Linked DNA regions of Homo sapiens. The protein of the gene in region 1 purifies or fractionates together with the protein of each later gene. This does not show direct contact. Each region holds a gene or a part of one and is shown on either strand. Other genes may lie near its edges. The genes, in order: SOCS7, KBTBD8, XIRP1, CRYBG1, PTPN14, KIAA0232 and CEP164.

What was found.
Region 2: the proteins of SOCS7 (region 1) and KBTBD8 purify together in Homo sapiens (affinity purification with mass spectrometry; one large-scale study listed by BioGRID and IntAct). This does not show direct contact.
Region 3: the proteins of SOCS7 (region 1) and XIRP1 purify together in Homo sapiens (affinity purification with mass spectrometry; one large-scale study listed by BioGRID and IntAct). This does not show direct contact.
Region 4: the proteins of SOCS7 (region 1) and CRYBG1 purify together in Homo sapiens (affinity purification with mass spectrometry; one large-scale study listed by BioGRID and IntAct). This does not show direct contact.
Region 5: the proteins of SOCS7 (region 1) and PTPN14 purify together in Homo sapiens (affinity purification with western blotting, with the first as the bait; one study listed by BioGRID). This does not show direct contact.
Region 6: the proteins of SOCS7 (region 1) and KIAA0232 purify together in Homo sapiens (affinity purification with mass spectrometry; one large-scale study listed by BioGRID and IntAct). This does not show direct contact.
Region 7: the proteins of SOCS7 (region 1) and CEP164 purify together in Homo sapiens (affinity purification with mass spectrometry; one large-scale study listed by BioGRID and IntAct). This does not show direct contact.

The regions. Positions count from the first base shown.
Region 1 is NC_000017.11:38,365,344-38,368,843, forward strand, and holds part of SOCS7 (suppressor of cytokine signaling 7), read left to right. Parts: coding exon 1-66; intron 67-498; exon of another isoform or gene 499-690; intron 691-943; coding exon 944-1,074; intron 1,075-2,538; coding exon 2,539-2,707; intron 2,708-3,500. UniProt on the Homo sapiens protein: Substrate-recognition component of a cullin-5-RING E3 ubiquitin-protein ligase complex (ECS complex, also named CRL5 complex), which mediates the ubiquitination and subsequent proteasomal degradation of target proteins, such as DAB1 and IRS1.
Region 2 is NC_000003.12:67,004,807-67,008,306, forward strand, and holds part of KBTBD8 (kelch repeat and BTB domain-containing protein 8), read left to right. Parts: intron 1-3,115; coding exon 3,116-3,500. UniProt on the Homo sapiens protein: Substrate-specific adapter of a BCR (BTB-CUL3-RBX1) E3 ubiquitin ligase complex that acts as a regulator of neural crest specification.
Region 3 is NC_000003.12:39,186,156-39,189,595, reverse strand, and holds part of XIRP1 (xin actin-binding repeat-containing protein 1), read left to right. Parts: intron 1-70; 5' UTR 71-150; coding exon 151-3,440. UniProt on the Homo sapiens protein: Protects actin filaments from depolymerization. Required for correct cardiac intercalated disk ultrastructure via maintenance of cell-cell adhesion stability, and as a result maintains cardiac organ morphology, conductance and heart beat rhythm.
Region 4 is NC_000006.12:106,514,217-106,517,716, forward strand, and holds part of CRYBG1 (beta/gamma crystallin domain-containing protein 1), read left to right. Parts: intron 1-3,500. UniProt on the Homo sapiens protein: May function as suppressor of malignant melanoma. It may exert its effects through interactions with the cytoskeleton.
Region 5 is NC_000001.11:214,348,200-214,350,401, reverse strand, and holds the end of PTPN14 (tyrosine-protein phosphatase non-receptor type 14), read left to right. Parts: 3' UTR 1-1,702; downstream 1,703-2,202. UniProt on the Homo sapiens protein: Protein tyrosine phosphatase which may play a role in the regulation of lymphangiogenesis, cell-cell adhesion, cell-matrix adhesion, cell migration, cell growth and also regulates TGF-beta gene expression, thereby modulating epithelial-mesenchymal transition.
Region 6 is NC_000004.12:6,785,727-6,789,226, forward strand, and holds part of KIAA0232 (uncharacterized protein KIAA0232), read left to right. Parts: intron 1-3,500.
Region 7 is NC_000011.10:117,326,410-117,330,653, forward strand, and holds the start of CEP164 (centrosomal protein of 164 kDa), read left to right. Parts: upstream 1-1,444; 5' UTR 1,445-1,495; exon of another isoform or gene 1,496-1,799; intron 1,800-4,244. UniProt on the Homo sapiens protein: Plays a role in microtubule organization and/or maintenance for the formation of primary cilia (PC), a microtubule-based structure that protrudes from the surface of epithelial cells. Plays a critical role in G2/M checkpoint and nuclear divisions.

The DNA.
Region 1 (3,500 bases):
TGGCTCCGATGGGGTCTTCCTTGCAGTCTTTCCCCCTACCTCCGCCTCCTCCACCCCATGCCCCAGGTTAGCTTAGTTTAGAGGCAAGACTTGTAAGAGTTGGGAGTACAAAGTGATACTTTCTACCATAGAAGGATGGGAGAAATCTATTTATGGAAATAACAGCTTAGTAGAAAGTTTAAATCTTTTCCCCTTGGCTGGACCAGACTCCTTAGAAATGAGGCGGAGAACTGGTTTTCCTAACCCGTTTTCTTTATGGAGGTCAATCTGATTTTTGTTAGGGATGAAAGACTACTGAATTTTTCATCAGTCTTTGCTGCTGAGACTGTTTTGCAATCCTTGAGTAGATATCACTTAAGAAACTGCCTTAATTTCAGGATAGTGAGGTTTAATATGTTGGTGGTTTTCAGCATTCTATGGTTTTTCTAAGCTTTTAGTATTTACTGCAGCCTTGTAAATAAGTACCAAGCATTTAGCAGCCCATACCTGCTTTGCCAGCTTACAGTACCCAAGGAATAAAATGAATGAAATCAGCATTCTTTTCTACTTGCCTGGCAAAATCATTACTCTTCCTGGGCAAGTAAGCGAGTCACTATTTCCAAGGCTGCCTTATCGGCACTTCACTTCGAGGTGGGAGAAGTTGGAATCGCTCTAGGCTGGTGAAGCCCCTGAAGTAGTCACCTTAGTAAGGTTAGTGAGCAGCTCCCCTCCCCCTTTCTTGGGGTCAAGTGCCCCCACCCATCCTTCACAGCTTACACAAGCCCACACAGCTTTTTGTTCCAGCCCATCCAGCTCTTTGCCACTGCTTTGGCTTCTACCCTTTCCAGCTTAGCTTCTAATGCCTTGCCCTCTTCAGTTAGCATCCTCTGTTTTTGGGGGAGGGTCTATTTGTGGTTGGGAGCAGTGAGGGTAAACAAGTGACCACCACTGTCTTGCCCTGCAGATGCATTTCCCCGGATTGCTCCCATCCGAGCAGCTGAATCCCTGCACAGCCAACCCCCACAGCACCTCCAGTGTCCCCTCTACCGGCCTGACTCGAGCAGCTTTGCAGCCAGCCTTCGAGAGTTGGAGAAGGTAGGTGGTACCTAAGGACTGGCAGGTCACTTCTCCTCCCATTAGCTAAATTCTGTATTCGGACACACCTTTATTTATGTGTTTATTTATTTTTAGAGACAGGGTCTGGCTCTGTTGCCCAGGCTAGGGTGTGGTGGCATAATCATAGCTCACTGTAGGCTCAAACTCCTGGGCCAAAGGATCCTTCTGCCTCAGCCTCCTGAGTAGCTAGGACTGCAGGCATGCACGACCAAGCCCAGCTAAAATTTATTTATATTTTTTGTAGAGACTGGTCTTGCAGTTTCCCAGGCTGGTCTTGAACTCCTGGGCTCAACGTGATCCTCTTGCCTCTGCCTCCCAAAGCTCTAGGATTATAGGCGTAAGCCACCACACCCAGCCCCTGTTTATTGTTTTCAGAGGAAGAATAGTTTACTTGCTTCCATATTTACAGTGACAAAACAGTGTGCTCCTGCTATTAGTTCCATGAGATGTAATAAAATTGAATTTGGGGAAAAAATTTGGACATGATAAAGGTTGTTGGAGAAATGTTTTACATAGTCTAAGCTGATTTTGATAGATTAACTGACCCAGTTCCCTCTTCTTTTCTTGGTAGGGTCTTTGGTAACAAAATTGTAGAATTATTATTCTTTGTTTTTTGTTGTTGTTGTTGTCTTGTTTTGTTTTTGAGACTGAGTTTCGCTCTTGTTGCCCAGGCTGGAGTGCAGTGGCGCAATCTCGGCTTACTGAAAACTCCGCCTCCTGGGTTCAAGCAATTCTCCTGCCTCAGTCTCCTGAGTAGCTGGTATTACAGGCGCCCACCACCATGCCCAGCTAATTACTGTATTTTTAGTAGAAATGGGGTTTCACCATGTTGGCCAGGCTGGTCTTGAACTCCTGACCTCAGGTGAGCCACCTGCCTTGGCCTCCCAAAGTGCTGGGATTACAGGTGTGAACCACTGCGCCCAGCCATTTTGTTTTTTGTTTTTTGTTTTTTTGACACAGAGTCTCACTGTGTAACCCAGGCTGGAGTACAGTGGCGCAATACCAGCTCACTGCAACCTCCACCTCCTGGGTTCAAGCGATTCTTCTGCCTCAGCCTCCTGAATAGCTGGGATTACAGGCATGTGCCACCAAACCCAGCTAATTTTTGTATTTTTAGTAGAGATGGGTTTTCACCATGTTGGCCAGGCTGGTCTCGAACTCCTGACCTCAAGTGATCCACCCGCCTCAGCCTCCCAAAGTGTTGGGATTACAGGCATGAGCCACAGCTCACGGCCAGAATTATTATTCTGTTACTTTGGAGGGCTAAAAGTATAGTGAGCCTGATGTTCATTGCTAATGGTTGAGACACTTGTAAGTGGCTTTTACCTATTGAAATATTTTGGAGAGAATGCAGAGGGTTCTCCCATGTTAAGATAGATTGCACTGAAAACTTTGACATTTCTCTGTCCTGATAACTAGTGGACTGCTTCTTGTCTTTGATAGTGTGGTTGGTATTGGGGGCCAATGAATTGGGAAGATGCAGAGATGAAGCTGAAAGGGAAACCAGATGGTTCTTTCCTGGTACGAGACAGTTCTGATCCTCGTTACATCCTGAGCCTCAGTTTCCGATCACAGGGTATCACCCACCACACTAGAATGGAGCACTACAGAGGTAAGAGATACTGGTAAGAGAGGCTTCTTCCCCCCTTGATTTGCTCTACCTTTGCTGTCTGACTTTTTTGTGGAAGAGATTCATAGGAATGGAACTACAAATAGGGGAAAAATTATCTTAGACTCAGTTGAATATTGATATGAGCGCTGATTTCCGTCACTAGAAGAAATGGAGGGGGTAGGGAAGGGAGAGTAAGGGTTCCATTTAAAAGTCTTGTCAGCAGCATCTTGTTTCCTAAATAGGAGGGCCTGAACAAAACTGTTGGAGAGGCTCCCGAGAAATGAGCCGGTAAAACTCTTTAGGTAAAAGGAAGAAAGAACCTAGGACCATTAGGCAAATTCTCACAAGCTTTGTTTGTAGTTAAACTTATCATCTAGAGATATTTTGTTAAATCACGTATACAAAGAGGGTGAATTTAGTGTTGATCCTGTAACTGTTCTGTTCTGAATTTCTTTCTTTTTTTTTTTTTGAGACAGAGTCTCGCTCTGTTGCCTAGGCTGGAGTGCAGTGGTGCGATCTCAGCTCACTGCAACCTCCGCCTCCTGGGTTCAAGTGATTCTTCTGCCTCAGCCTCCTATGTAGCTGGGATTACAGGCATGTGCCACCAGGCCTGGCTAATTTTTGTATTTTTAGTAGAAACAGTGTTTTATTCTGTTGGCCAGGCTGGTCTCAAACTCCTGACCTCAGGTGATCCACCCGCCTCGGCCTCCCAAAGGGCTTGGATTACAGGTGTGTCTGAATTTCTTTGTCTGATAGTCACTTTCTCCCAGGCAGCATGGTGATAATTTCCTCT
Region 2 (3,500 bases), on another chromosome or scaffold:
CCTTATTATTGCAAAAATTATGAAATTTAATTACAAAGAGTTTGGAAGTATGGTCTTCAAGTTTCACCTTCACTGCTGTTTATGTTGCCTTTCATAATACATTTTCAATTTTTTTCACCGGAAAACTTTGAGATGTCCCTTTTTTTTGGTTTGCCATTTTAAGTGGGACTATCTGATATATGTAGTGTTTGTTTTGTTTTGTTTTCTGTTTGTTTTTTTAACTGTTAAGGACTACTACTTTGGCAAAAATACAGTAGAGGTAGAGTGACTGAGTCAGAGTAAATAAGACATTTGATTCAAGGCTCTGATTTGTGATAACTATTTTCCTTTTATTTGGTTTCTTACACATTTTAGTTGCTTGAATGTTTAATGCAGTGTAGATAATAGCAACATCCTTATTCCTCGTATGTGTCTCTTAATTGATGTTTTTCTCACACTACTACTTAAGGAAAAGGAGCAGCTTCTATGAAGATATACAGTCATGTGCCATGTAATGTTTTGGTCAATGATGGATCACATACACAATGGTGGTCCTATAAGATTATGATAGCATATTTTTACTGTACTTGTTCCATGTTTAGATATGTTTAGATACAAAAATGCTTCCCATTGTGTTACAGTTGCCTAGAGTACTCAGTACAGTCACATGCTGTACAGTTTTGTAGCCTAGGTGTGTAGTAAGCTCCCATCTAGGTTTGTGTAAGTATGCTCTATGATGTTCTTCCCACAAGGACAACTATCACTTAATGATGCATTTCTCAGAATATGTCCCTGTCATTAATTGATGCATGACTGCCCTTATCCCATTGTTTTCTTTCTTTCTTCTTTCCCCTCCCCCTTCCCCTTCCCTTCTTTTCTTTCATTTCTTTCTTTCTCTTTTTTTTTTTGAGGCAGGGTCTCACTCTGTCACCCAGGCTGGAGTGCAGTGGCATGATCTTGGCTGACTTCAACCTCCGCCTCCTGGGTTCACATGATTCTTCCACCTCAGTCTCAGGCATCTGCCACCATGCCTGGCTAATTTTTTTATTTTTGGTAGAGTCGGCGTTTCACTATGTTGACCAGGCTGGTCTTGAACTCCTGACCTGCAGTGATCCACCCACCTTGGCCTCCCACCATTGTTTTCTTTTAAAAATTGTGTTCCTTGCTCTAATCCTTTATTTAACTAAAAATTTCCTAGTAATATCTGAGCTCATTTGTTTAAGTTCAGTGTCAAGTTAATTCCTCAGAAGGAGTTGTACTCTCTGGTTCCTTATTTTAGTTAAATAGAAGCACAGGCCATGATTTGGGTTTGCTGTCTTGTGGAAAAATGGAATATAAGAATGGATGTATGATCCGTCCAGTATACTTGGATAGGTTATGTCATCCAGTATGATGAAGCTGTCTGTGTATGTGTGTATTTTGGTCTTACTGCCTAACTGTTAGTTGGTAGAGGTAGAATTAGATTCCTATTTGGAATGTGAAGTTTGTATATTAATGCAAATACTAAAGCAAACTAGCAATGAATTAATAGAATTTCAGGGCTGGAATTATTAACATCATTTAATTTGAGGTTATATTTTATATAAGAGGACTCTGAAGCCCTAAGGGTTTCTTAATTGCATATTATTAGCTTTAACTTTTATTAAAGAGTACTTTAGATTTTAACATTCAACTTCTTTGGTGTGTCGTCTTTACTTTCTTATCTATAAGAAATTTATAGAGAAGTAGCACACATTACAAAGTTTAAATTTCCTACCTTATTTATCGAGAATCCTGTTACAAGTTAGGCAATAAGGGCAGATGATGTGCGAGCAAATCTGGGAGCTTTACAAGCTATTTTAAGTTAGTTGAAGGCAAAGCATCACTGTTACGAAGTACGTAGTTGAATTTGTAGATAAGAGTAACCCTAGTTCAAAACAGTTTTCAAGGGGAAGCTCAATTTAGAATCTGGTATTTCTAATCTAAACAAAGCCTCTTTACATAAATAAACCTGACATGCATAGTCAGAAGCTTATGTTGTACTATCTGTGGCTATTGAAGTATCATTTAATCTGTTCATAAAGTGTTCAGATTTTTATTACAAAGATTTTAAACAAATGCTATAATTAGCAAAACTATTGTAAATCTTCACTACTTTAATTCTTTCAGACATTTTCATATTGGCAGTCTGACTCAGCATACCTTTTTATTATCAAATCAAAATAGAAACTGACTCAAAGTCAACATCACAAACCATGTATGTGTTTTCTATCTTATTAAAGTCATGTTTTCTCCTGCTGAATATTTCTCTTTGCATTATAGCAACATTCAGGTAAGCACATCAGTGACCCATAAGCATAAATCTGCACAATTCCATCTGCTGTCTTCTAATTAAATAGCATACACATTTATCATGGCATATTTATGATGATGTTACATGTATGCATTTTGGTCTTACTGGCTGAACGTTACTAATAATGCTTTTTTAGAGCTAGAGTAAAATGAATTTTCTATAAACACACAAATTGGATAGAGCAAATAGAATCAAGTTTGTGTTTTTTTTTTTTTTTTTGAGATGGAGTCTCACATTGTTACCCAGGCTGGAGTGCAGTGGCGTGATCTTGGCTCACTGCATCCTTCACCTCCTGGGTTCAAGTGATTCTCCTGCCTTAGCCTCCTGAGTAGCTGGAATTACAGGTGCCTGCCACCACACCTGGCTAATTTTTGTATTTTTAATGGAGATGGGGTTTCACCATGTTGGCCAGGCTGGTCTCAAACTCCTGACCTCAAGTAATCCACCCGTCTCAGCCTCCCAAAGTGCTGGGATTACAGGCGTGAGCCACTGTGCCTGGCCAGAATCAAGCTCTTAACAATTCTGCCATCAAGCCCAAGTAACTCCTTGTACCTTCCCAATACAAACCTCCCAATTCAGGTTGATTATAATATTATCTGTTATATTGTGTCATGGAATGACAAAGTTTTAAGGTATTTTGTAACCCATATGAATGTATCTCTGGAGATTATAAAAGAAATGTTTTAGAAAGTGAAATATATAGCAAATTATGCCCTTTAATCTTTAGAGGTTGTAGTTACAACATATAACCAAAAACCAAACATAAAAATTTACATATTCTTGTTTTCTTTTTTTTTTTTTTAGGAGAATTTTTTCTCTTCTATGAGCCTCAAAAAGACTACTGGGGTTTCTTAACCCCCATGACTGTGCCTAGAATCCAGGGCTTAGCAGCTGTATACAAGGACTCTATCTACTACATAGCTGGAACCTGTGGAAATCATCAACGTATGTTTACTGTAGAAGCCTATGATATTGAGCTAAATAAATGGACTCGTAAGAAAGACTTTCCATGTGATCAGTCCATAAATCCATACCTTAAACTGGTACTTTTCCAGAACAAACTCCATTTATTTGTTCGAGCTACTCAAGTGACTGTTGAAGAACACGTCTTCAGAACCAGCAGAAAAAATTCCCTTTACCAATATGATGACATTGCTGACCAGTGGATGAAAGTGTATGAGACCCCAGA
Region 3 (3,440 bases), on another chromosome or scaffold:
AGGAGTCTCTAAGCGTAAGTCACCCAGAGCTACTCTGACTCTGAGCCCTGTTTACTACCATTTCTCCCAGCATCCAGCCTCTACCCTGCTGAACATCTAGATCTAAGGCTCCCAATCCCATCCTCATCTCTGCCCCTTCTTCTCAGAAGGATGGCCGACACCCAGACACAGGTGGCCCCCACACCAACCATGAGGATGGCAACTGCAGAGGACCTGCCCCTCCCTCCACCCCCAGCCCTGGAGGACCTGCCACTGCCGCCACCCAAGGAATCCTTCTCCAAGTTCCATCAGCAGCGGCAAGCTAGTGAGCTCCGCCGCCTCTACAGGCACATCCACCCTGAGCTCCGCAAGAATCTGGCTGAGGCTGTGGCCGAGGATCTGGCTGAGGTCCTGGGCTCTGAGGAACCCACCGAGGGTGACGTTCAGTGCATGCGCTGGATCTTTGAGAACTGGAGACTGGATGCCATTGGAGAACACGAGAGGCCAGCTGCCAAGGAGCCCGTGCTGTGTGGTGACGTCCAGGCCACCTCCCGCAAGTTTGAGGAAGGCTCCTTTGCCAACAGCACAGACCAGGAGCCAACCAGGCCCCAGCCAGGTGGAGGAGACGTTCGTGCAGCCCGCTGGCTATTTGAGACAAAGCCACTGGACGAGCTGACAGGGCAAGCCAAGGAACTGGAGGCCACTGTGAGGGAGCCTGCAGCCAGCGGAGATGTGCAGGGTACCAGGATGCTCTTTGAGACGCGGCCGCTGGACCGCCTGGGCTCCCGCCCCTCCCTGCAGGAGCAGAGCCCCTTGGAACTGCGCTCAGAGATCCAGGAGCTGAAGGGTGATGTGAAAAAGACAGTGAAGCTCTTCCAAACGGAGCCCCTGTGTGCCATCCAGGATGCAGAGGGCGCCATCCATGAGGTCAAGGCCGCATGCCGGGAGGAGATCCAAAGCAACGCGGTGAGGTCTGCCCGCTGGCTCTTTGAGACCCGGCCTCTGGACGCCATCAACCAGGACCCCAGCCAGGTGCGGGTGATCCGGGGGATTTCCCTGGAGGAGGGGGCCCGGCCCGACGTCAGTGCAACTCGCTGGATCTTTGAGACACAGCCCCTGGATGCCATCCGGGAGATCTTGGTAGATGAGAAGGACTTCCAGCCATCCCCAGACCTTATCCCACCTGGTCCAGATGTTCAGCAGCAGCAGCATCTGTTTGAGACCCGAGCGCTGGACACTCTGAAGGGGGACGAAGAGGCTGGAGCAGAGGCCCCACCCAAGGAGGAAGTGGTCCCTGGTGATGTCCGCTCCACCCTGTGGCTATTTGAAACAAAGCCCCTGGATGCTTTCAGAGACAAGGTCCAAGTGGGTCACCTACAGCGAGTGGATCCCCAGGACGGTGAGGGGCATCTATCCAGTGACAGCTCCTCAGCACTGCCCTTCTCTCAGAGTGCCCCCCAGAGGGATGAGCTAAAGGGGGATGTGAAGACTTTTAAGAACCTTTTTGAGACCCTTCCCTTGGACAGCATTGGACAGGGTGAGGTTCTGGCCCATGGGAGTCCAAGCAGAGAAGAAGGAACTGATTCTGCTGGGCAGGCCCAGGGCATAGGGTCCCCAGTGTATGCCATGCAGGACAGCAAGGGCCGCCTCCATGCCCTGACCTCTGTTAGCAGAGAGCAGATAGTCGGAGGTGATGTGCAGGGCTACAGGTGGATGTTTGAGACACAGCCCCTAGACCAGCTCGGCCGAAGCCCCAGTACCATCGACGTGGTGCGGGGCATCACCCGGCAGGAAGTGGTGGCTGGGGACGTTGGCACAGCTCGGTGGCTTTTTGAGACCCAGCCCCTGGAGATGATCCACCAACGGGAGCAGCAGGAACGACAGAAAGAAGAAGGGAAGAGTCAGGGAGACCCCCAGCCTGAGGCACCCCCAAAGGGCGATGTGCAGACCATCCGGTGGTTGTTCGAGACTTGCCCAATGAGTGAGTTGGCCGAAAAGCAGGGGTCAGAGGTCACAGATCCCACAGCCAAGGCTGAGGCACAGTCCTGCACCTGGATGTTCAAGCCCCAACCTGTGGACAGGCCAGTGGGCTCCAGGGAGCAGCACCTGCAGGTTAGCCAGGTCCCGGCTGGGGAAAGACAGACAGACAGACACGTCTTTGAGACCGAGCCTCTTCAGGCCTCAGGCCGTCCCTGTGGAAGACGGCCTGTGAGATACTGCAGCCGCGTGGAGATCCCTTCAGGGCAGGTGTCTCGTCAGAAAGAGGTTTTTCAGGCCCTGGAGGCAGGCAAGAAGGAAGAACAGGAGCCCCGGGTAATCGCTGGGTCCATCCCCGCGGGTTCTGTCCACAAGTTCACTTGGCTTTTTGAGAATTGTCCCATGGGCTCCCTGGCAGCTGAGAGCATCCAAGGGGGCAACCTCCTGGAAGAGCAGCCCATGAGCCCCTCAGGCAACAGGATGCAAGAGAGCCAGGAGACTGCAGCTGAGGGGACCCTGCGGACTCTGCATGCCACACCTGGCATCCTGCACCATGGAGGCATCCTCATGGAGGCCCGAGGGCCAGGGGAGCTCTGTCTTGCCAAGTATGTGCTCTCGGGCACAGGGCAGGGGCACCCTTATATACGAAAGGAGGAGCTGGTGTCAGGTGAACTTCCCAGGATCATCTGCCAAGTCCTGCGCCGGCCAGATGTGGACCAGCAGGGGCTGCTGGTGCAGGAAGACCCAACTGGCCAGCTCCAACTCAAGCCGCTGAGGCTGCCAACTCCAGGCAGCAGTGGGAATATTGAAGACATGGACCCTGAGCTCCAGCAGCTGCTGGCTTGCGGTCTTGGGACCTCCGTGGCAAGGACTGGGCTGGTGATGCAGGAGACAGAGCAGGGCCTGGTCGCACTGACTGCCTACTCTCTGCAGCCCCGGCTAACTAGCAAGGCCTCTGAGAGGAGCAGCGTGCAGCTGTTGGCCAGCTGCATAGATAAAGGAGACCTGAGTGGCCTGCACAGTCTGCGGTGGGAGCCCCCGGCTGACCCGAGTCCAGTGCCAGCCAGCGAGGGGGCCCAGAGCCTGCACCCAACTGAGAGCATCATCCATGTTCCCCCACTGGACCCCAGCATGGGGATGGGGCATCTGAGAGCCTCAGGGGCCACCCCTTGCCCTCCTCAGGCCATTGGAAAGGCAGTCCCTCTGGCTGGGGAAGCTGCAGCACCAGCCCAATTGCAAAACACAGAAAAGCAGGAAGACAGTCACTCTGGACAGAAAGGGATGGCAGTCTTGGGAAAGTCAGAAGGAGCCACGACTACCCCTCCGGGGCCTGGGGCCCCAGACCTCCTGGCCGCCATGCAGAGTCTGCGGATGGCAACAGCTGAAGCCCAGAGCCTGCACCAGCAAGTTCTGAACAAGCACAAGCAGGGCCCCACCCCAACAGCCACTTCCAACCCCATCCAGGACGGTCTTCGGAAAGCTGG
Region 4 (3,500 bases), on another chromosome or scaffold:
CTTCTCACACTTCTGCTCCCTCACCACTCCCACTTAGCACAGGTGAATAATGATTAAGTGCTTAAGTTTTTCCTCCATTCACATATTTGTTCAAGGAGTGGGTATTTTAACAACATTATCATTATAATTCTTGAACCTAATGGTTTCTTTCATTCTATTTGATTTCTTGGATAAGTAAGCTTAAGAGGAGGAGAGTTCTGATTGGGAGAACTCTGAGAACTCTGAGAGGGAAGTATGCGTAATGAATAACTTGACTACCTCACCAACTGCCAACCTGGAGACCTTTGATATAGTCAGTGATTTATTCTGTGATGGTAGGTAGCATCAGAGAAATGAGCTGGGTGAATGATGCCTATTATTTATAGAAGACCAGTGTGATTGAATGCTAAAGCCTCCTAAATGTGAGCCTTAGAGAAACATTGCTGTGTACCTTATGAAGGATGGTTCACCTGTCTTCCAATTAGAAGACACCAGTAGAAAAACCAGAAATGTTACACTGTGAAATAGTAGGCTAAACAAACAGGAAAGATGATCTTATAATGAAATTCTTCGTTTGCTGTTCTCTGTAATAGAACTAAACCAAATATGTCTTTCCCAGTTCTGATTAATTTATACCTAAAAATTTTCTTTACCAGACATTCAATGTATTTGTTTTGCGCAGTGCCTTGCACATGGTCATTTGGCAAATTATTGACTTAAAAATTAATAAGTATTTCTAGTCCTTTGACCCATTTCTTTGTGACTGATGGTTTTTTCAGACCCTTTAATTCTTCCTATGACCGTATCGCAAGATGTTAATCAGATTATTCTTTAAAACAATTTGAGACTGAAGAGTAAGAAAAACTATTTCGTATTTCCTGAAAAATGACACTGAAGTAGCATGTTCCTTTATGCTGTTAGAAAAATTATTACTTCAAGTTCTCTACCAAGTGCTGAATGTTGAAATTCTTAAAATGGTATATGTAGAATAAGGAGAATTTTCCTCTTATAATATAACTATGGCTTTTTGGACTCCAAATTATTTTCCCCTGTCTCATAATGAAGGCATTACAACATGAATTATAGGAGCCTTCCTTTTAATCAGTCTGAAGTAGGTTAATTGTAGTAACTCTTGGTAGCACAACTTAATAGCACAGAAAGTTTGGTTGTAAAATTTATTCTGATCTTCGTGTAAATCTTTAATGTGCAGATACGTGTTTCCTGTCCTTAAGGTAGCCTGTTGGCTAACCTGTAGTGTTTTCTATTTACATCATAAGATATACTTCGATGTTTGAATTGAGTACCCTTCCTTGAAATGATTAGTGAGAATTTTTAAAAAGTATATTCTCTGGTATGTGACCATCCCTCATTAACTGATAGCAAATTGAAGCTCTCTATTTCTAATCATCTCACTAGTTTCATAATTTGATCTTTGAGGAAATGCTTATAAATTAATTTTCCTTTTAAATTTAAGGTATGGGCCTGCAATAAGGGAGCCTAAGTATCTTATGGAGATATTGGGGAAAGCAATGCCTGGGAGAAATTTATGAGCAGAGATCAAATTTATTTATTTATTTATTTATTTATTTATTTATTTATTTATTTATTTATTTTTGAGACAGGATCTCACTCTGTTACCCAGGCTGGAGTGCAGTGGCATGATCATGGCTCACTGCAGTCTCGACCTCCCCCGGCTCAGGTGATCCTCCCACCTCAGCCTCCCTAGTAGCAGGGACTACAGGCGCACCACCATGTCTGGCTAATTTTTGTATTTTTTTAGAGACAGGATTTTGCCATGTTCCCCGGGCTGGTCTCAAACTCCTGGGTTCAAGTGATCCACCTGCCTCGGCCTCCCAAAGTGCTAGGATTACAGGCATCAGCCACTGATCCCAGCCTCAAATTTAGTATCAAGTAAAATTTGTAAAAATTAAAATCTGAATTCTCAGTGCTGCTTTTGGAGAGAATATTTTATCCAGAAGGATAAGTTGACTCACCAGCAGTCATACTGCCTGTCCCTTCTAGAAGCTCCTTAGGCCCAAGCTTCTTTTTTTTTTTTTAGACAGAGTCTCACTCTGTCGCCCAGGCTGGAGTGTAGTGGCACAATCTTGGCTCACTGCAACCTCCACCTCCCAGGTTTAAGCAATTCTCCTGCCTCAGCCTCCCAAGTAGCTGGGATTATAGGCCTGTGCCACCACACCTGGCTAATTTTTGTATTTTTAGTAGAGACAGGGTTTCACCATGTTGGCCAGGCTGGTCTGGAACTCCTGACCTGAAGTGATCCACCCGCTTTGGCCTCCCAAAGTGTAGGGATTACAAGCATGAGCCACCACACCCAGCCAGGCTCAAGCTTCATGAAGGCCAAGTCCATGAAGGAGAGGCAGTATGGGATTTCAGTGTCTCCACTTGTGTGTTCTCATTATCAAAGTGGCCTCTAAAGTCTATGTTATGTTATGGATCTCATGATAATTCACTGACTTTAAATGATAAAGATGGAAAGAACCAGAGGAGCTCATTCAGGCGGGTATAGTCCAAGCCTATCTGGGGAACCAGAATAGTATAGTGGTTGGGAGCATGGCATCTGAAGCCAGAGCACCTCACTTCAAACTGTGGCCCTGTCACTTATCAGCTGCATAACCTCAGGGAGTTACTTCTCAACACTTCAACTTCCTCAGCCAAAAATAGAATGTATAAAGTCGTATATTAATTAAGTAAGCCCGATGAAGCATTTGTCAAGGGCTTGACAATCACTGATTGTTAGTGGTTATGCTTTATCTCTCCCGTTTTATAAACCACTGGACTAATGGTTTAGACTTTTTTTTTTTTTTTTTTTTTGAGACAGAGTCTCACTTTGTCACCCAAGCTGGAGTGCAGTGGCATGACCATAGCTCACTGCAGCCTTGATCTTCTGGACTCAAGTGATCTCCCACCTCTGCCTTTGGAATAGCTGGGACTACAGGCACGCACCACTTCACCTGGCTAATTTTTTTGTTTGTTTTGTAGAGACTGGGTCTCAGTATGTTGCCCAGGCTGGTCTTGAACCCCTTGGCTCAAGCAATCCTCCCTCCTTGACCTCCCAAAGTACTGGAATATATATATACATATATATATACACACACACACACATATATATATACACATATATATATACACACACATATATATATACACATATATACACACACACATATACACACATATATATATATACACACACACATATATACACATATATATACACACACACATATATATACACACATATATATATACACACACACATATATATATACACACACACACACATATATATATATACACACACACATATATATAAGCTTTGGAATCCTTTCTTCTAAGAAAGTTTAAATAGGAGCAATAAATAAAACAGATACTAGGAGTGATTCTGCTTGAAAGGAGAGTGGACAGCCCCATCCTCATCCCTACTTTCCCCAACTGCAGCCCTTGAAGAGAACCCCAGGGATTCCTTCAACCATAAGTTGGGGGAAATAAAAACAACTCTG
Region 5 (2,202 bases), on another chromosome or scaffold:
TAAAACAATGATGACAGCAGTACTTAATATGTATTTCGAGGTGAACTTATATAGATTGAGAGAGGCTGCATTTGGCAGACTGATGTATAGGAAGACCCATTTGTTTCTAGCTTCTCCCTGCAGGGAAAATGCTTTCGTCATTATAGCCTCTTTACACAGACTGGCCATTCTAGTGAAACAGGTGGTAAACCTTTGGGCTGCCCAGAAACATTTTATCTGTTTTCACTTACCTAGGAAGGGGAAAGATTAGCGGGTCATCCAAAATCTGTATGTAAGCTATCTTCATTTTCTTCCCCAACCTTCTCCTCCTGGGAAACACAAATGCTATCTCATCTGACAAAAGGTTTTAGAGGATAAAGCTGAAAAGATTGGATTGGGATCTTTTTGTGGCTTGGGGCGGAGCCTTTTGCTAAAATCTCAAGAATGCTGCTTTGAGTTTAGCTAGGGTGGCTCTCAGAACTGGGGTGCCTGGCATTCTCAGCATTTCTCAGGGGCCTCCCACCTCTGACAACTGCAGTGTTAGCTAATACATACCTTGAGCATAGAACTGAATGCTGTAATTCAGAGCCATTTTTTTTTTCAACTTGAACATTGTACAATTTTACTGCAATTTCCTTTGAACTTTCTTGCCACTGTTTGGAATCTTAAAAATTCATTAGCCTTCTCCTTTCTGACATAAAGCTACTCTTCATCAGAGATGAGTTCCTATGTATGTCCTTTGTTCCTTCAATAGCTAATTAATGTGCTTGAGGATACTTCAGTGGAAAAAAAGGTTTAAATATGCAAATTACTAATAAATGTGTAACCTTATGTAACTTGTGTTACATCAAGTAACAAGCTAATCTAGTTTGTTTCACTGGACTAGGCTTGTGCTCCCTACTTCAGTATTTTGATGCTTTCCTTGATCTTTGTTTCACAAAATGTTGTGAATTTTGGTATCATTCAAAACAAATGACATTTATTAGGTTTCATTTTGAAACGATGTACAGACAAGTCCCCAACTTAGAAACCGGTTTGTTCTTAAGGTTCTTGCGTCAGCCCATAGAAGCCCACTGACCTCCACCACAGCCCAAATGGAGGGCTGTGATAGCCAGATCTGGTTGGCTTTTGTGGGCTGACCCAGACATTTAATCACCATCTCTTATGTTGTTGCCGTAAGAAATGCATTCCAGGTTGGGACTTGGGATCCTGAGAGCACATTCGCCCCCTGTGGTGGCCGCTTGCCACCTTGCAAGATGGAAGCCCAGTCTCCTTACTACCAAACTGTAGTTGTAAGCAGAGGGAGGGGTGAGATGTTTATAGGACATTCCCTAAGCTGGGGAGTGATTTTTATCACTATTCATGTCAACTGTACTTTGGTATAGACTCCCTATCAATTTAATAATATGAAAAGCCTAAAATAAAACTATGCATGCTATTCTATGTGCTATTTTATATCAGTAAATAAGCTTATGCTTGCCAGTTGTATACACAGTTATGAGGTGTATAGAACTGACTTTGACAGTATTTTTTGCACTGTTTCCTATCTGTTTTTATAAAGTCTTATTTAGATATTGGACCTTGTTGATGTTCTCACTGCCCTTGTGCTTGCTATAAAATGTTTCATATGTGCCTTTACAAATGTGAGATCTTTATTCTAACCTTTTTTTGTAAAAGATATCTATTGATTTCCATATGCAATAAACCTTTTTTTCAGAGAAAAGTTACATCTTCTCTTTTCTGTACTGTATATGTTTGCATTAGTTGAAAGTGCCTGGGAAAACCTGCATGCTTTGTTTTCTAAAGCCCATTTATTGCTACCCAGTTTTTAGTCCTGCATAACCTTATCATACTGAAGATTTAGTTTGAAATTCCCAAGGTTGTCACTGTTAGAAGAAACCTGAAAGGGGTGATCACTAGGCAAGTGGAGTGAAGAATACATAGAAATGGGTCTTTCTCACAAATGCAGCAATAAGCCTCGTTAAGCTCCAAGCCCCTACTCACTCCTCCTTCACTGTCATTTACTCAGGTACCAAACTGTTGATGTGGAAAAGGCAGGCACCAACCAGGCTGCTGTAGAAAATTTAAATTCTTGCTTTTGCCTTTCAGCTTTATAACAGCTCAACTTGTGTCCAGGTTTAAAGGTGGCTGTCCTGTCCCAGACTTTCAGCCAGTAACCACCATAGCACATTCACGGTGAACCCCTCATATGTGGGTAGATGC
Region 6 (3,500 bases), on another chromosome or scaffold:
TGGTTTGGAGCTTAGAATTCAGAGATACCAGCATCACAATGCAGGCCCCTTGCAGTCTGGCCCCCAGTCATCTCTGTACTTTATCTTGTCCTCTTTGTCCCCTTTCCACACTGTCCAGCTAAACAAGACTGCTCTTGGTTCTCTGAACATGCCAAGCTATTTCAGACCTTCTTTGCTTATATTCTTTTCTCTTATTGGAATGTCCTGTCTCACTCCCACTCCCTCCAGTTCTTAAAAGTTCATATCAAATATTCTGTTCTCTCTGGAGTCCTTTGGAAGTCCTATTACAATGAATTATTCCTTTCCTCAATCATAGTTCTCTATTTTTCCTTCATTATTGTCTATATCATGTTGTATTATAAATTGGTCATAGTAAACTCTGGCTGTGGTGTCTATCCTATCATTTTGCCCCCAACACCTTGCTCAGGCGTTTAAACATAAGTGCTTAATGTTAAATGTAAGTGTTTAAATGTTTGCTAAATAAAGTCAAAGTCTGTAATCAACCTTAAAGAGTATGTTAATATTATAAAGTATATTTATTTTTATTTTTTCTGACCCTGGCTTAAGTCTGCAAATAAAGTTTGTTTGTTTTTGAGACAGCATCTTGCTTTGTCACCCAGGCTTGGAGTGCGGTGGTGTGATCGTGGCTCACTGTAGCCTCAACCTCCCAGGCTCAAGTGATCCTCCCACCTCAGCCTCCTGAGTAGCTGGGACCACGGGCATGCACCACCATGCTCAGCTAATTAAAACAATTTGTTTTTTTGTAGAAACGGGTCTCCCTGTGTTGCCCAGGCTGATCTCGAACTCCTGGGCTCAAGCAATCCTCCCACCTCAACCTCCCAAAGTGCTGGGATTACAAGCATGAGCCACCGCACAAGACCCAGATGAAGTATTTTTAATAAACATCGGTGCCCACAACAACATTAGAAATGTAGTTTTACTATGTTGAATATAGTTACTATTTAGAATATTTCTTTACAGTTATTTTTGGTCTTTCACATAATCACATAAGTGGTATTTTATACAAAGTAAAAACTGTCATCTTTCCCATTTGTATCTAAACTTGTAGGGTCTAATGAAATAGATGAAGTGCCTGCATTGCTGACTGTGAATCACCGACCCATTTTTTGGGCAGAGGGAACCAGAGCACAAGGTTAAAAATATTCCTTGTATTGGCCGGGCGCGGTGGCTCACGCCTGTAATTCCAGCACCTTGGGAGGCCGAGGCGGGCGGATCATGAGGTCAAGAGAGTGAGACCATCCTGGCCAACATGGTGAAACCCCATCTCTACTAAAAATACAAAAATTATCCGGGCATGGTGGAGCACGCCTATAGTCCCAGCTACTTGGGAGGCTGAGGCAGTAGAATCTCTTGAACCCGGGAGGTGGAGGTTGCAGTGAACCAAGATCACACCACTGGACTCCAGCCTGGCGACAGAGCAAGGCTCTCTCAAAAAAAAAAAAAAAAAAAAAAAATCCTTATATTTGAAGTATAATTTAATTCCCAAGAGATTACATGCTTTTTCTTTAAAAGTTTTCTTTTTTAGAAATTTATTATATGCATCAAAAGCAATTGCGTTTGAGGGGGCTTCTTAAAAGAATATTAGAACTGGATTTGAAAGACTCAGGTTTGCTTCTTGGCCGTGAACAAGTTTGTTAAATCCCTTTGGAAGTCAGTCAGTCTTTATTTGGGAACTGAGAACGGTTATTCCTGTTGCTTTGTAGTACATTTAAAGAGGCTATGCTTTGTGTACTGCACATCCTTACACAGATACAAGGTAATCAGATGTTTTGCTTTATAGCATTTTTGTCCTACTTGTTACCCAGCCTGGAAACCTTTAGAGACTTCCTTTCTTGACCAGATTTTTACCAGGTTTGCCTCCATGAGTCTTTTCCATCAGTCTTTTTCTTTACTCTTTCATGTTTCCTCTGCCCCTACCCTCCCTGAAGCTCTTACTCCTTATGAAGATAGTTACTGTAGTCCTCCAACTGGCCTCTCTTTTTTCTGGTCTCTCCTCCTCTGTTCTGTTGCCAGAATTATTTAATAGGCAAATCAAATCATATCATGACCCATTTCCCAAGTATACACCAGAGGTTCTCAACATTTCCCTCTATTCCATCACACCTGAGGGATACGACAGTTTTGTTGGTAAGGTTATGGGCTTTCTCCTCCCAAGATTTTTACCTTGGAAGTGCTACCACACTCCTCCCCTGGTTGAGAATTAATGTTAAAGAGTTAGGAAATCACTGTAAGATCTTTGCTATCTAGCCTCATTCTTACTTTTAGCTTAATCTTTTATTGGATCTCTTCTTTTTCGTTTTTGTGTTTTTGAGACAGGGTCTTACTCTGTCACTCATGCTGGAGTGCAGCGGTGCCATCTTGGCTCACTGCAACTTCCACCTCCCTTCCTCCTGCTGCCTTGGCCTCCTGAGTAGCTGGGACTACAGGCACATAACGCCTGGCTAATTTTTTGTAGAGATGGGGTTTTGCTCTGTTGCCTAGACTGGCTTCAAACTCCTGGGCTCAAGTAATCTGCCCGCCTTGGCCTCCGAAAGTGCCGAGATTATAAGCACGAGCCACCACGCCCAGCCTGCATCTCTTCTTGTCACCTTATATTTCAACACAAGACCTCTGGCCACTTCCGTTATTGGCAGACTACTCTGAAATATCCTTTCCACCTTTCTCTCTCTTTCTGAGTCTTGGAGTCTTGGCTTAAATGCTGCTACTTCTATTTCTGTAACCTGATTTTCAGAATTAACTCATTATTTTTCTCCCACACAGTGCTAGCCTGATACCTCTACTTATCTATTTTTTCCTTATGACTTTTTAGTTTATATACATGAAGGTCTTTCCTGGATTATAAACTCCTTGAGAGATGTAGAGGAAAATCTTAATCATTTCTGATTTCCTCTAGTGTGCAATATAGTCTTTTACATAGTACTCATTTGTTAAATGTTTGACTGAATTAACTCAAAATTTACAGTCTCTGATTTCAGGAGGAGGAGGATAGAGTTGGAATAACTTTGTATGAGAACTTAGTGAATCCACGTGACACACTCAGAACAGGGCCCAGCATATAGTAAGTGCTCAGTAAGTGGCAGCTTTTAGCTATTAATTTGAATAGGTGGAGACGACACTAGTGGTTGGATACACTGGTTAATTGTATATGCTAGTTTATTATGACAGTGTTCACATATTTATTTCTGGTGTGTGTGTAAAGAAAAAAATCTCATTTTCTTTCTTTTTTTTTTATTTTTATTTTGAGACAGAATCTCGCTCTGTCGCCCAGGCTCGAGTGCAGTGGCGCGATCTCGGCTCACTGCCAACTCCACCTCCTGGGTTCACGCCATTCTCCTGCCTCAGCTTCCCGAGTAGCTGGGACTACAGGCGCCCGACCACAACGCCCGGCTAATTTTTTGTATTTTTAGTAGAGACTGGGTTTCACCGTGTTAGCCAGGATGGTTTTTATCTCCTGACCTCGTGGTCTGCCCGCTTTGGCC
Region 7 (4,244 bases), on another chromosome or scaffold:
TTTAGTAGAGACGGGGTTTCATCATATTGGCCAGGCTGGTCTCGAACTCCTGACCTTAGGTGATCCACCCGCCTTGGCCTCCCAAAGTGCTGGGATTACAGGTGTGAGCCACTGTGCCTGGCAAAGTGCTAGGATTACAGATATGAGCCACCAGGCCCGGTCGATAGTTTTTGTTATCAGGTATTCATGCGTGAGAACCCTCTCTTCATGGTCTTCCCTGGCTCCATTTGTCAGGGTTTTAAAACAAATGACTCTATTTTGATTTTGATAATTTTCACAAGGAATATGCTCTGTATATTCCAACAATCTGAGTTTCTCATCCTGGAATCAGCCTCTGAGTGGCACTGGGACTATCCTGAGTCAGCTACATCTCTAGAACCTATCAGGAGCGGCTCTATGAGCTTGGCCTCATCATTTTCCTCCTCAACTAGCAGCATCTGTATTTGTCTGTTTCTCAGTTTTCCTATTGATGTAATGGCCAGAACTTTCTTTGCCCCTCTTAACTTCTCTAGGAGGTTGGAGACATATGAGAGAAAGGAAGATTTGCCCTCCGTGCAAGCAAAACTAAAACTCTTCGGAATTATATTAGTAGCAACCTTTCTGCCCGACAGGGTGTGTGGAGGAGCTACACATTGTGTCACTTTTTTTCTTCTTCAATAGACTCTTTGAAATAGTTATGACAGACATTACTATCCCCATCTTGCAGACATACAAACTGAACCCTGGGCTTTGGTGAAAAGATGGATAGTAGAAAATAGGTTTAACTCCTGGTCAGGTGCTCACTGGTTTAATAGGAGCACAGGAGAGCCAGTTTTTTTGCGGGGAGAGATGGGGAGTGGACGCGTCTCCATTACCTTACATTCACATTTGTTTTGTTGATTAAAGTAACAATGGGTTGATTATTGATGACCACTGTATTATTCACCTGATGTTAATCATACTCCTAACAAATGATCAATTAGATAATTAGATAATTCACATTAGTATAAATACTCTAAATAGTCCTTCTCTGTCCTGGCAGAAATCCTCACGTCTAAACTCGGGGTCCTCTTTTTTTTTTTTTTTTTTTTTTAGTAGAGAAGGGGTTTCACCATGTTGGTCAGGCTGGTCTCGAACTCCTGACCTCAGGTGACCCACCCGCCTCGGCCTCCCAAATTGCTGGAATTACAGGCGTGAGCCACCGCGCCCAGCCGATGAGGTTCTCTTTCAACCTCTTGCGGATTCCCATTATCTATCTTAAACTACACTCTTTCAACCTCTTGCGGATTCCCATTATCTATCTTAAACTACACTCCCATCGTGCAACGGAAAACGGACAGAGCTCCTGCGTGCACCGAAGGGACTTCGAGCCAATCCATTGTCACAGCTCTCAGCCGGCGACCTATTGGCTCCTGCTGGAGGCGGGACTCCCGGTTGCTAGGCGGTACCTTTTCCGGAAGTGTTTGTTGCGCGCTGCAGGGCAACACCCCGGCGTCCCTGGAAGCTGGGGGAGCGGGTGGGTGTTGGGTGGCGTTGGGGGAGCTGCGCCTCGCCCAGAGCCTCGCCCGGAGCCTCGCCCGGAGCCTTCCGGGGTGGGGGATAGTTGAGGACCTCATCGAGGGAGGGGTTGGGCGGCGGGGAAGGGAGCGAGCGTGGCGGGGGACCCGAGGCACGCTCTCGAGCCAACGAGCGTGATGCGCTCGAGTGTGGGCGGGGACTGAGGGAAGAAGTGAAAATCGGACTGCCAGGCGACAGTTCCTCCGTTTGAAATCTCGCCGGCTCCTGAGCGGGCCACCGGGCCCGGGCTGGGGGTCTGGCGGGTGAGTGAGCAGCGGGTCGGGACGCGGGAGAGGGGCACTGGGCACGGGGCCCTGGTTTGCTTGCTCTGTTCATCGTTGGCGAGTGAGGCCAGGCCTTCCGAAGCTTGCTGGGATACTTCTGTGGCAGGCTTCCCCCCGGGTCCAAATCCGGGGCTAGCCCAATCTTATGCCATCTTTGGCCAGCTGGGAAAGTTGGAAAGCTTTTTTGTTTTTTCCTTTTCTTGCATTGGATTTAAAAATGTCCCTCTACCTCTGGCACCGCTCTCCTCACTTGGCTTCAGCGACTCCCTGTCCGTTCTCCTAACTCAGTCCTTGGCAGTAGAAAGCTCCCTTCTACTCGGCGCACTCCATCTCTTGCGTTATCAGCTTTTCAGCGTTGACTCGCCAAACTACTCCAGCCAGACCTCTTTCCTGAGCTCAGACCTGCTTACTGTCATCGTCAGCCTTCCCCGGTCCCTCCGATCTGTTTCTCCTCTTGTATTTTTTTATCTCAATGAAGGGCTTCACCATTCACTCAGCCAAGTCTGTCCCTTTAATTTATTCATCTAATAAATACAGCAAACATTTGTCGGACATGCCCTGTCTTCTAGGCAGTGTAGTAGGTGGGGCTGCCTATTGGACGAGGCATAGAAATGAACACATCTAGAAATGATAGTCACAGTGTTCTGGCTTTAGTGCTCTGATTTCCCTCCTCTCTCCCGAAGTTCAAGTCCTGTATTCTGCCTCTTAATTCCCCTAGAATCTGGCGCTTCCTTTCCATCCTCACAGACACTGACTTAGTTCATAATTTCTTGCTTGTGCTTTCAGGATAACTTCCTAAGTGGTCTCTCTGCCTCAGTTCTTGTCCTCCTGTAATTAGTTCTTATGCAGCTGTCAGAATCATTTATTTATTTTAGAGACAGGGTCTTGGTATGTTGCCCAGGCTGGAGTGCAGTTGGTATTCACCGGTGTGACCCTAGTACACTGCAGCCTCGAACTCTTGCCCTCAAGCCATCCTCCCACCTCAGTCTCCTTAGTAGACGGGACTACAGGCATGCACCACTATTCTTGGCTAGAATCGTCTATCTGACCTACAGATCTGGTCATGCCAGTCTCCTTTGTGAAATCCTGTGATGGCCCCTCATCATTTACAGGATAGAGCCTCTGTTCTTCCAGGCCCTTTATAATATGCTCTTGCCTTTCATTCTAGAGCTCTGTCTTGCCACTCCTCCCACTGTCCCTTGCACTCTGGTCATGTCAGAATGGTTAAGAGTTTGGGCTTTGGAGTCAGACATGGATACTTACATATTCTGCTCTACCGTTTATTAGCTGTGACACCTTGGGCAAGTTTGTTTGTTTGTTTGTTTGTTTTGAAATAGAGTCTTGCTCTGTCGCCCAGGCTGGAGTGCAGTGGTGCGATCTTGGCTCACTGCAGTCTCAGTCTCCTGGGTTCAAGCGATTCTCCTGCCTCAGCTTCCCGAGTAGCTGGGACTACAGGTGGGCACCACAACTCCTGGCTAATTTTTTGTATTTTGGTAGAGACGGGGTTTCACCATGTTGGCCAGGCTGGTCAGGATCTCCTGACCTCATTATCCGCCCACCTCCGCCTCCCAAAGTGCTGGGATTACAGGCGTGAGCCACTGCGCCTGGCCTTTTTTTTTTTTTTTTTTTTTTTAACTTTGCTAAGCCTCAGTTTCCTTATTTGAAAAGTGAAGATAATTCTATTTTGCTGAGTGGATGAAGTGAGATGATGTATATAGAGCACTCAGTACAGTTCCTGTAACATAGGAAGTGTTCAGTGGCTATAAGCTTTTGTTGTCATAATTAATTCTTTGCACCCACCTTATGATTTTCTTCTTTTTTGCCTTTGTGCATGTTGTTCCTCTGCCGTGAATTCCCTTACTCCGCTTATCCTGGGGATCACCTGCTTATCCTTCAAGAACTATCTCAATTGTCCTCTGTGAGGCTTTCCCTGATCTTCCTAAGATTATTTGCCCTTACCTTTGTGTTCTGTTATATATTATGTTACTTCCTTTAATTCATGTAACACATTTTGTAGTCATGTGTTTACGTGTTTGGCTTTCCAGGTAGGCTGAGCTCAAGTTCAGGGCCATGTGTAATCAGGTTTGTAGCCCTAACACGTCGCACAATGTCTGGCCCATGGTGGGTGTTCAGTAAGTGATTACTTGGCGCGGTGACTCACGCCTGTAATCTCAGCACTTTGGGAGGCCAAGGCGGGCGGATCACCTGAGGTCAGGAGTTCGAGACTTGGCCAACATGGTGAAACCCCATCTCTACTAAAAATACAAAAATTAGCCGGGCGTGGTGGCAGGCGCCTGTAATCCTAGCTACTCGTGAGGCTGAGGCAGGAGCATCATTTGAACCTGGGAGGCAGAGGCTGCAGTGAGCAGAGATCGTGCCATTGCACCCCAGCCTGGGTGACAAGAATGATACTCTGTCTCAAAA